Regions from separate parts of the Homo sapiens genome. Here region 1 is linked to region 2. Evidence: fine-mapped expression QTL. A gene starts in region 2. The other region holds a variant in brackets. All regions are shown on one strand. Distances are between the middles of the regions.

Region 1 (5,377 bases), 93 kb before region 2:
AAATAAATCTACCTCTACATCAAATAACTATCAAATTTTATAGTATACCTATGTTTTGATTGACATGTACTACTAACTGTGATAATAACTCAGTTCAAGAGAAACAGATTAAAACTTTATATCCTATGATCCCAGGAACTTTGAAAAATCCATTTATTTGCATATTTCTGATGATGAAAAGTAGAAAAGCATGATCAGTAACTCACCATCAAGCATAACATTGAAATAAAAGTTACATGGAGAAAGCAGAATGAAACGTTCATTCAAGGAGAAAAAGAAATGACATACAATTTCTAACTGAGTTCATCCATGTGGCTTTCAAATATACAATGTAAAATCAAATTGCCATAGAATGTAAATTCCATGGGTTATGTCTAAGATAATGATTTTTATTTTAAAATAGTAATATTTAAACTAGGCCAGTAATTGAGTTATTTGTAACTATTTAAACTTTTTTTTTAAGACAGTTTTGCAGGCAACCCCCTTTGGGTCCCCTCCTTTGTATGGGAGCTCTGTTTTCACTCTATTAAATCTTGCAACTGCACACTCTTCTGTTCCATGTTTGTTCCGGCTCGAGCTGAGCTTTCACTCACTCTCCACCACTGCTGAAAGCCAACGTCGCTGACCCACCATTGGCTTCCACACCTCCGGATTGGGCAGGGTGGCTGCTATGCTTCTGATCCAGCGAGGTGCCCATTGCCACTCCCAATCAGGCTAGAGGCTCGCCATTGTCCCTGCATGGCTAAGTGCCTGGGTTCATCCTAATCGAGCTAAACACTAGTCGCTGGGTTCCAGGGTTCTCTTCCGTGACCGACGGCTTCTAATAGAGCTATAACACTCACTGCATGTCCCAAGTTTCCATTCCTTGGAATCCGTGAGGCCAAGAACCCCAGGTCAGAGAACAAAAGGCTTGCCGCCATCTTGGGAGCGGCCTGCCACCATCTCAGGAGCTCTAAGAACAAAGACCTGCCTGGTAACAGCTGTTGGCCCGTACAGGTATTCTCCAAAGTGGTGAGTAATATTGAACCACTTTAGCTTGCTATCCTGTCCTATCCTTCCTTAGAATCAGAGGAAATACCGGGCACCTGTCAGCCAGTTAAAAATGATTAGCATGGCCACTGGACTTAAGACTCAGCTGTGAGGCTTTCTGGGAAAAGGCTTTCTAACAACCCCCAACCCTTTGGGGTTAGGAGCGTTGGTCTGCCTGGAACCAGCTTCCGCTTTCACAATTTCCTGGGGGGAAGCCGAGGGCCGACTAGAGGCAGAAAGCTGTCGTCCTGAACTCCCGGCATTGGCTGGTTGAGATCATGGTGCAGCCAGAAGTCTCTACTCAACAGTTGCCCACGTGTGCACCCCTACCTTTCCTTCTGACCCATACCTCCTGGGTCCCGACCATGACTTTCTTGAAAGTGTAGCCCCAAAAATTCTCCTTACCTCTGAATCTACTTCCTCCAATCCCTGCCTCCTAGGTACTAATGCTTCAGACTTTCATTTCCTCTCCCAAGTATTAGAGCAAGTTGTATCTCCAAAGAGATCTAAGGAAGCTCTATGCTGTGGCCTTAGATATCTAGGCTATGAACCCAGGGAGTCTTGCCCCTGGTGTCCCTCCCAATTTAGGTATATAGCTGTCAACATGGGCTGTTATGTGGGACCCATTCCCCACCACCCTTGCCAGGGCCCCAAGTTTGTAAATAGCTAGGAAGATCGCTCTCCCATTGTGTAAGATGCTCTCCTCCCCTAATTTCTACCCAGTTTACTACCCCCTGCAATACAATCTCCAAGCCTTGGCTCCTTGGCCAGGCCCTTAGAACTGATAACCCAGTATTTTAACAACTGGAACTGAGTCTACAACAACATAATAGATCAGGATGAAAACGAATTTGAGTAAATTAAAGGGAGGCACATGTTCCTATAGTGGCAAACTGGGGCAACAAGTGAACGTCCTTCCACTGCGTTTCCAAAATCCATCTAAAAAAAGACAGACAGAGAGAGGAAGAGGCAGAAAGTCAAAGAGAGAAAGAAAGAAAAAAGGGAAAGAGAGAGGTAGTAAAGAAAAAACAGTGTACCCTATTCCTTTAAAAGCCAAGGTAAATTTAGAACCTATAATTGATAATTAAAGGTCTTCTCCACGACCCTATAATACTCCAATACTACCTTGTTGTCAGTGTAAACAAGGGCGTAGCCCGAAAACACTGAGACCACTGACAACCCATAGCCTTCCTATCAAAAATCCTGAACCCAGTAACCCGTGGATGGCCCAAATGCATTCAATCTGTAGTGGCAACTGCTTTGCTAACAGAATAAAGTAGAAAAATAACCTTTAGAGGAAACCTCATTGTGAGCACACCTCACCAGTTCAGAACAATCCTAAGACCAAAAAAAAAAAAAAAAAAAGGTAGCTTACTAGCTCAAAATTCTTAAAGTATGGGGCTATTCTGTTAGAAAAAGGTGATTTAACACCAACCACTGATAATTCCCTTAACCCAGCAGATTTCCTAACAGGGGATTTAAATCTTAATTGCCATGCAAAGGTCCAACCAGACCTAGGAGGAACTTCCTTTAGGATAGGACGATAGATGGTTCCTCCCAGGCGATTGAGGAAAAAACCACAATGGGTATTCAGTAATTGATAAGGAAACTCTTGTGGAAGCAGAGTTAGGAGAATTGCCTCATAATTGGTCTGCACAAACTGCGAGCTGTTTGCACTCAGCCAAGCCTTAAAGTACTTACAAAAAGAGCAAGCCCATCTTTTTCTCCTCGCTCTCCTTCTCGTAGGAAAAAGGCACATAGGATAAACAGGAGCCATCTCTCATATTTCGTACCCAAAAGGACTTAATCCAGGGCAACAAAATCTTAAGTTC[G/A]ATAATTAAGGCATATTCCTACAAAGGAAAAGGACAAAGGCCCTAGTGGGCAAAAACTCTATCTCAATCCTGACTCAAAAGGTTACCTACACCCTCTCTGAAACGAATTTGCATAAGAACTGTTGTTTATGAAAATGCATCTTGATGGGGCAACTGGGTTGTTATGAAATACTCAGAAACCCAGCCCAGCTCTAGAACTCACTCCTGAGTGCAAAGGCAATGTCAGGCACGCTGGTAAAGGACCACTAGAATCCAGCAGCCCAGACCCCTTTCTTTGTGGTCAAGAAGGGCAGGAAAACAGGTGCAGGACTGCTACATCGGTGAGTGTAACTAATCTGATAAGCAGAGGTCCGTGGGTGGTTACGCACCCTGAAAAGGAATAAGCATTAGGACCACAGAGGACGCTCTAGGACTAATGCTCATCAGAAAATGACTAGGGGTGCTGGCATCCCTATGTTCTTTTTAAACGTTCCCCCCTCCCAGGCAAAAACGCCCCTAAGATGTATTCTAGAGAATTAGGACCAATTTGACCCTCAGATGCTAAGAAAGAAACGACTTATATTCTTCTGCAGTACCCCTGGCCACAATATCCTCTTCAAGAGGGAGAAACATGCCCTCCAAGGGAAGTATAAATTATAACACCATCTTACAGCTAGACTTCTTTTGTAGAAAATAGGGCAAATGGAGCGAAGTGCCATATGTGCAAACTTTCTTTTCATTAAGAGACAACTCACAATTATGTTAAAAGTGTGATTTATGCCCTACAGGAAGCCCTCAGAATCTACCCCCCTGCCCCGGCGTTCCCCCGGCTCCTTCCCCAACTAATAATGACCCCCCTTCAACACAAACGGTGCCAAAGGAGATAGAGAAAGGGGTAAACAATGAACCAAAGAGTGCCAATATTCCCAGATTATGCCCCCTTGAAGTGGTGGGAGGAGGAGAATTCAGCCCAGAGTGTGTGTACCTTTTTCCCTCTCAGACTTGAAGCAAATTAAAATAGACCTAGGTAAATTCTCAAATAACCCTGATGGCTATATTGATGTTTTACAAGGGTTAGGACAATCCTTTGATCTGACATGGAGAGACATAATGTTACTGCTAGATCAGATACTAACCCCAAATGAGAGAAGTGCCGCTATAACTGCAGCCCAAGAGTTTGGCAATCTCTGGTATCTCAGTCAGGTCAATGATAGGATGACAACAGAGGAAAGAGAACGATTCCCCACAGGCCAGCAGGCAGTTCCCAGTGTAGACCCTCAATGGGACGCAGAATCAGAATGTGGAGATTGGTGCCGCAGACATTTGCTAACTTGCATGCTAGAAGGACTAAGAAAAACTAGGAAGAAGCCTATGAATTATTCAATGATGCCCACTATAACACAGGGAAAGGAAGAAAATCCTACTGCCTTTCTGGAGAGACTAAGGGAGGCATTGAGGAAGCATACCTCTCTGTCATCTGGATCTATTGAAGGCCAACTAATCTTAAAGGGTAAGTTTATCACTCAGCTGCAGACATTAGAAAAAAACTTCAAAATCCGCCTTAGGCCTGGAACAAAACTTAAACTAAGAACTTGGCCTCAGTTTTTATAATAGAGATCAGAAGGAGCAGGCAGAACTGGACAAACGGGATAAAAAGAAGGCCACCGCTTTAGTCATGGCCTTCAGGCAAGTGGACTTTGGAGGCTCTGGAAAAGTGAAAGGCTGGGCAAATCGAATGCCTAATAGGGATTTGATTCCAGTGCGGTCTACAAGGACACTTTAAAAAAGATTGTCCGAATAGAAATAAGCCACCCCCTCATCCATGCCCCTTATTTCAAGGGTATCACTGGAAGGCCCACTGCCCCAGGGGATGAAGGTCCTCTGAGTCAGAAGCCACTAACCAGATGATCCAGCAGCAGGACTGAGGGTGCCTGGGGCAAGCGCCAGCCCCTGGCATCACCCTCCCCAGGTATGCTTGACCACTGAGGGCCAGGAGGTTAACTGTCTGCTGGACACTAGCGCGGCCTTCTCAGTCTTACTCTCCTGTCCCAGACAACTGTCCTCCAGATCTGTCACTATCCGAGGGGTCCTAGGACAGGCAGTCACTAGATACTTCTCCCAGACACTAAGTTGTGACTAGGGAACTTTACCATTTTCACATACCTTTCTAATTATGCCTGAAAGCCCCATTCCCTTGTTAGGGAGAGACATTCTAGCAAAAACAGGGGCCATTATACACTAGAATTAGGAGAAGAAAAAAAGGTAAATATCTATACAGACTCTAAGTATGCTTACCTAGTCCTCCATGCCCACGCAGCAATATGGAGAGAAAGAGAATTCCTAACTTCTGAGGGAACACCTATCAAATATCAGGAAGCCATTAGAAGATTATCATTGGCTGTACAGAAACCTAAAGAGGTGGCAGTCTTACACTGCAGGAGTCATCAGAAAGGAAAGGAAAGGGAAATAGAAAGGGAACCGCCAAGCAGATATTGAAGCCAAAGAGCCACAAGGCAGGACCCTCCATTAGAAAGGCT
Region 2 (5,377 bases):
CACCTGTTGTTATACCACCCAAAGGCTAAGAATAGTCTTTACTTCAGAAAAAAAAAATTTTAACACAAAGATGAAGTCTCACTATGTTGCCCAGGCTGGTCTCAAACTTCTGGGCTCAAGTGATCCTAGCCTCAGCCTTCCAAAGTGCTGGGATTACAGGCGTGAGCCACCATGCTGGGCCAGTTTTTACATTTTTAATTGGCTGAAAAAAAAATCAGAAACAGAATATTTCATAATAATGAAAATTATATATGAAATTCAAATTTCCTTTTTTTTTTTTAGAGTCTCATTCTGTTACCCAAGCTGGAGTGCAGTCATGCGATCTCGGCTCACTGAAACCTCTGCCTCCAAGGTTCAAGCAATTCTTGCGCCTCAGCCTCAGAGTAGCTGGGATTACAGGTGTACGGCACCACACCCAGCTTATTTTATTTTATTTTATTTTTAAAGTAGAGATGGGGTGTTGCCATGTTGACCAGGCTGGTCTTGAACTCCTGGGCTCAAGAGATCCTCCTGCCTTGGCCTCCCAAAGTGCTGGGATTACAGGCGTGAGCCACTGCACTCAGCCAAAATTCAAATTTCAATGTCTATAAAGAAAGTTTTATTGGAACACGGCAATGCTCATTCGTTTACCTATGGTCTTTGGCTGCTTTCACACAACAGCAGACCACTAGTCGTAACAAAGACCGTGTGGCCTACAAAGCCTGAAACATTTACCACCTGGCCCTTAAAAGAAAACGTTTGCAAGACCAGGTGCAGTGGCTCACGCCTATAATCCTAGCACTTTGGGAGACCGAGGCGGGAGGATCCCTTGAGCCCAGGAGTTGGAGACCAGCCTGGGCAACATAGGGAGACCCTGTTTCTAAAAAAACCAAACAGAAAAAAATTTGCCCAGCCCTGTTCTAGACTGTTCCTGTTGTTACATCCAAAGTCATTTGGGGCCGGGTGTGGTAGCTCCCACCTGTAATCCCAACACTTTGGGAGGCCGAGGCAGGTGGATCATCTGGGGTCAGGAGTTCAAGACCGGCCTGGCCAACATGATGAAACCCCGCCTCTACTAAAAATACAAAAAAATAGCCGGGCGTGGTGGCGTGTCCCTGTAATTCCAGCCGCTTGGTAGGCTGAGGCAGGAGAATCGCTGGAACCTGGGAGAAAGAGGTTGCAGTGAGCAGAGATCGCCCACTGCACTCCAGCCTGGGCTACAGAGCAAGACTCTGTCTCCAAAAAAAAAGTCTTTTGGGCCGGGTGGGGTGGCTAACACCTGTAATCCCAACATTGTGGGAGGCCAAGGTGGGTGGATTGCTTGAGGCCAGGAGTTCGAGACCAGCCTGGCAAATATGGCGAAATCCCCTCTCTACTAAAAATACAACAGCCGGGGTGGTGAGGCGCCGCCTGTAATCCCAGCTACTCCGGAAGCTGAGGCACGAGAATCACTTGAGCCTGGGAAAGCGGAGGCTGCAGTGAGCCTAGATCCCGCCACTGCACTCCGGACCGACTCAAAAAATATAAAAATATAATATACTCCGGGCGCGGTGGCTCACGCCTGTAATCCCAGCACTTTGGGAGGCCGAGGTGGGCGGATCACGAGGTCTGGAGTTCAAAACCAGCCTGGCCAACATGGTGAAATCCCCGTCTCTACTAAAAATACAAAAATTAGCCAGGCGTGGTGGAGGGCGCCTGTAATCCCAGCTGCTCGGCAGGCTGAGGCAGAGAACTGCTTGAACCCGGGAGACGGAGATTGCAGTGAACGGAGATCGCGCCACTGCACTCCAGCCTGGGCGACAGAGCGAGACTCCGTCTCAAAATAAATATGATATAATATAATAATACAAAATGCTGTTCTTCAGTTGCACTCCACACATCTCAAATGCTCAGCAGCCATTTATGGCCAATGACTGCCGGAGTGCACAAGTGCAGGATGCCCGGTGAAGAGTCGTGGAGTGAGCACCGTGGAGACTGTACGGGACACCTAGGGAGGAACCTGGCCCCCCAGGGGAGTAAGAGCCGCTGTAGGGGTAGTCAGCGCCTCACACAGCTCGCACCCCACGCGCATCCCTGGTGGATACGGCCGACGCCTGCGCGGCGCCTGCGGCTGGAGCACCGAATGGGGGAGGCGATCTCGCGGCCCCGACTCACCTTCCGCAGTCCAGCCCAGTAGCTGCTCCCGCGGGGCCCACATCTGCGCGCGCACGCACGCACGAAGCAAACGAGGTAGCAGCACCGTGTGTGAAACGGATTAGAATGCGCACCGCGGGCCACTGGCGGCGCCAGAAGAAAGAAGCAGGACTGGGTGAAGTGCGTCACCGCGCGGCGCGCAGCCTGCCGGGAAGCGTAGTTCTCGGGGCGAAATGCGGCTTGTGCAGGGCGAGAGAAAATGCTGAGGCGCACTTTGACCTTCTAGGTCCCCCTCGGCCGCAATATTTGGGGTTGTGCTTACCACAGGTACCCATAAGCAAAATATAGTGTTGTTTTCCATGGTTGTAAACATTATATAAATACACTTACAATGCCTGCTACTAGCTCTTTTGCGCAGTTCTATAATGACACGTGTTGACCTGTTCATTGTGTGTTCACTGCTGTGTGGTATCTAATGTAGAAATACACCAGGACTCCAATTGGACAGACTCATGCGCATCCATGGAGAGCTTCTCAAGGACAGTGGTTCGCAAACTTGTTGTTGTTAAAATCCTTTTACACTCTTAAAAATTACTGAGGACCCCAAAGAGCTTTTGAAACCGCCTTTGCAAAATTATACCTAAGGAAATTATGATGTTATAGGAGTTATTAAGAAATTATTTTAAGCAGATAGAGAAGGAAAGGGGTCCTTGGGAAGTTTTTGTTTCTTTTAAAGCAGCTCCAGAAAGGTTTCTTGTCTAGCAGGAAAGCCTGGGCTCCTAGAGCAGGATGGCAAGCTTTGATATGGAAATACAGGCCATTAGAAACTGGACGCACCCAAACATGGCGATTCCCGCCGTCCTTTTCTTTGCCCTGACATGTGCCTGGCAACATGGCCACCCCCCACATATTCCCACGTGTGTAGAACTTCATGGAGCCCTACATTTGCATATTAAAAAGCTAGGGTGGGAGGGCCAGGTTTTTGGCTGCCACATAAATGACACATCTGATCAAACTAATCCCCTGAGCCCTATGGAAACCAGACACCGCCTCCTCCAGCATCCTCAGATAAGCAGCCACTTTTCCGCACACGGCGCTTTCTCTTTGTTGGAATCCCCGCTCCCTCTGTCTCTGTATGGGGGAGCTGTTTTCGTCTTCCTTCCTTCTTTCTTGCCTATTAAACTTTTCGCTCCTTAAAACCACTCCACGTGTGTCTGTGTTATTAAGCCTATCAGAGACCAAGGACCCTGGTGTTCCTCCAGTCATCAGAGCCTTATCAATGACAGTAAAAGATATCAGATCTAACCCACCTCATCTTCCTTTCAACCTCTAAACTGTCTTTGTCCACTTCTGGGCATAGGCCAAAGTAGCCTTGGGAAGGAATTCAGTTTATAGCTTAAATAATAGCCCTTCCCAAGGGCTAAACTGTTCTTGTAAAATGAATGAAAGGCCACCAGCCACCAAATTAGGATGAGAAGGGCTGGAATTCTAAATATTACCAGCCATTATTCCAGAGGCCCTAAGACGCACAACTTCCCCAATTACTCTTTTGAAGCACAACTTCCCCAATTACTCTTTTTTTTTTTTTAGGGAAAAGAACACGGAGTCTCACTCTGTCTACCATGCTGGAGTGCAGTGGTGCCATCTCGGCTCACTGCAACCTCCCTCTCCTGGGTTCAAGCGATTCTCCTGCCTCAACCTCCTGAGTAGCCGGGATTACAAGCACGCACCACCATACCCCGCTAATATTTTTGGATTCTTTTTTTTTTTGGTTGGTTTTTTTTTTTTTTTTTTTTTTTTTTTTGAGACGGAGTCTCGCTCTGTCGCCCAGGCCGGACTGCGGACTGCAGTGGCGCAATCTCGGCTCACTGCAAGCTCCGCTTCCCGGGTTCACGCCATTCTCCTGCCTCAGCCTCCCCAGTAGCTGGGACTACAGGCGCCCGCCACCGCGCCCGGCTAATTTTTTGTATTTTTAGTAGAGACGGGGTTTCACCTTGTTAGCCAGGATGGTCTCGATCTCCTGACCTCATGATCCACCCGCCTCGGCCTCCCAAAGTGCTGGGATTACAGGCGTGAGCCACCGCGCCCGGCCAAGGTTGGTTTTTTTTTTTTTTTTTTTTTGAGCCCAGGCTGGAGTGCAATGGTGCGATCTCGGCTCACTGCAACCTCCTCCTCCCGAGTTCAAGCAATTATCCTGCCTCGGCCTCCGGAGTAACTGGAATTACAGGCATGCGCCACCACGCCCGGCTAATTTTGTATTTTTAGTAAGGACGGGGTTTCTCCATGTTGGTCAGGCTGGTCTCAAACTCCTGACCTAGGTGAGCCGCCCACCTTGGCCTCCCAAAGTGGTAGGATTCCAGGCGTGAGCCACCACGCCCAGCCCTCAATTACTCTTAAAGATAACATCACTATTGTGAACCTAAGATTGGCCTTTTGAGATGTCTTTTCAGATTTTTGCATTTCTGACAACTGAACGGCCCCAGCTGGACCTGCCAACCAGTTTTGTGGCCACCACCTAGGAACTGACTCAGCCTAAGAGAACAGCTTCAACTCCTTATGATTTCATCCCGAGCCAACCAATCAGCACCCTGATTCACTGGCCCCCTTCCCACCAAATTATCCTTAAAAATTTTGATCTCTGAGTTTTTGAGGAAACTGATTTGAGTAATAATAAAACTCTGGTCTTCCGCACAGCCGGCTCTGCATGAATTACTCTTTTTTTTTTTTTTTTTTTTGAGACGGAGTCTTGCTCTGTCGCCCAGGCTGGAGTGCAGTGGCACCATCTCAGCTCACTGCAAGCTCCGCTTCCCGGGTTCATGCCATTCTCCTGCCTCAGCCTCCCCATTAGCTGGGACTACAGGCGTCCGCCAACACGCCCGGCTAATTTTTTGTATTTTTAGTAGAGACGGGGTCTCACTGTGTTAGCCAGGATGGTCTCGATCTCATGACCTCGTGATCGGCCTGCCTCGGCCTCCCAAAGTGCTGGGATTACAGGCGTGAGCCACCGCGCCCAGCCGAATTACTCTTTTTCTATTGCAATTTTGCTGTCTTTGATAAACTGGCTCTGTCTAGGCAGCAGGGAAGGTGGACCCATTGGATGGTTATACTTTTGTTTGTGTGAGCTAAATTCATCACTATTTACCAAACTAGATATTTCAATGCAGAAATTTCATATATGTATATATTCATTTTAAAAACAATAATAAACCCATTACTTGTTAACATATTTTTATGAAAATATGATTTCCTTTAAAAAATTTAGTAA

The links.
Region 1: its variant is fine-mapped to the expression of ZNF589 in whole blood (TOPMed, PIP above 0.99).

Annotation. Positions count from the first base shown.
Region 1 is chr3:48,331,339-48,336,715 of GRCh38, reverse strand. SPINK8 (serine peptidase inhibitor Kazal type 8 (putative)) reads left to right here and starts at 3,055. Exons shown (of 8, transcript NM_001080525.3): 1 at 3,055-3,181; 2 at 4,245-4,350. RefSeq lists a silencer at 2,510-2,710. The variant G/A (reference allele first, on the strand shown) is at 2,862.
Region 2 is chr3:48,237,971-48,243,347 of GRCh38, reverse strand. It overlaps ZNF589 (zinc finger protein 589), which reads right to left and starts at 2,244. Exons shown (of 4, transcript NM_016089.3): 1 at 2,134-2,244. The coding sequence starts at 2,176. RefSeq lists enhancers at 2,075-2,369, 1,560-2,477, 2,795-3,089.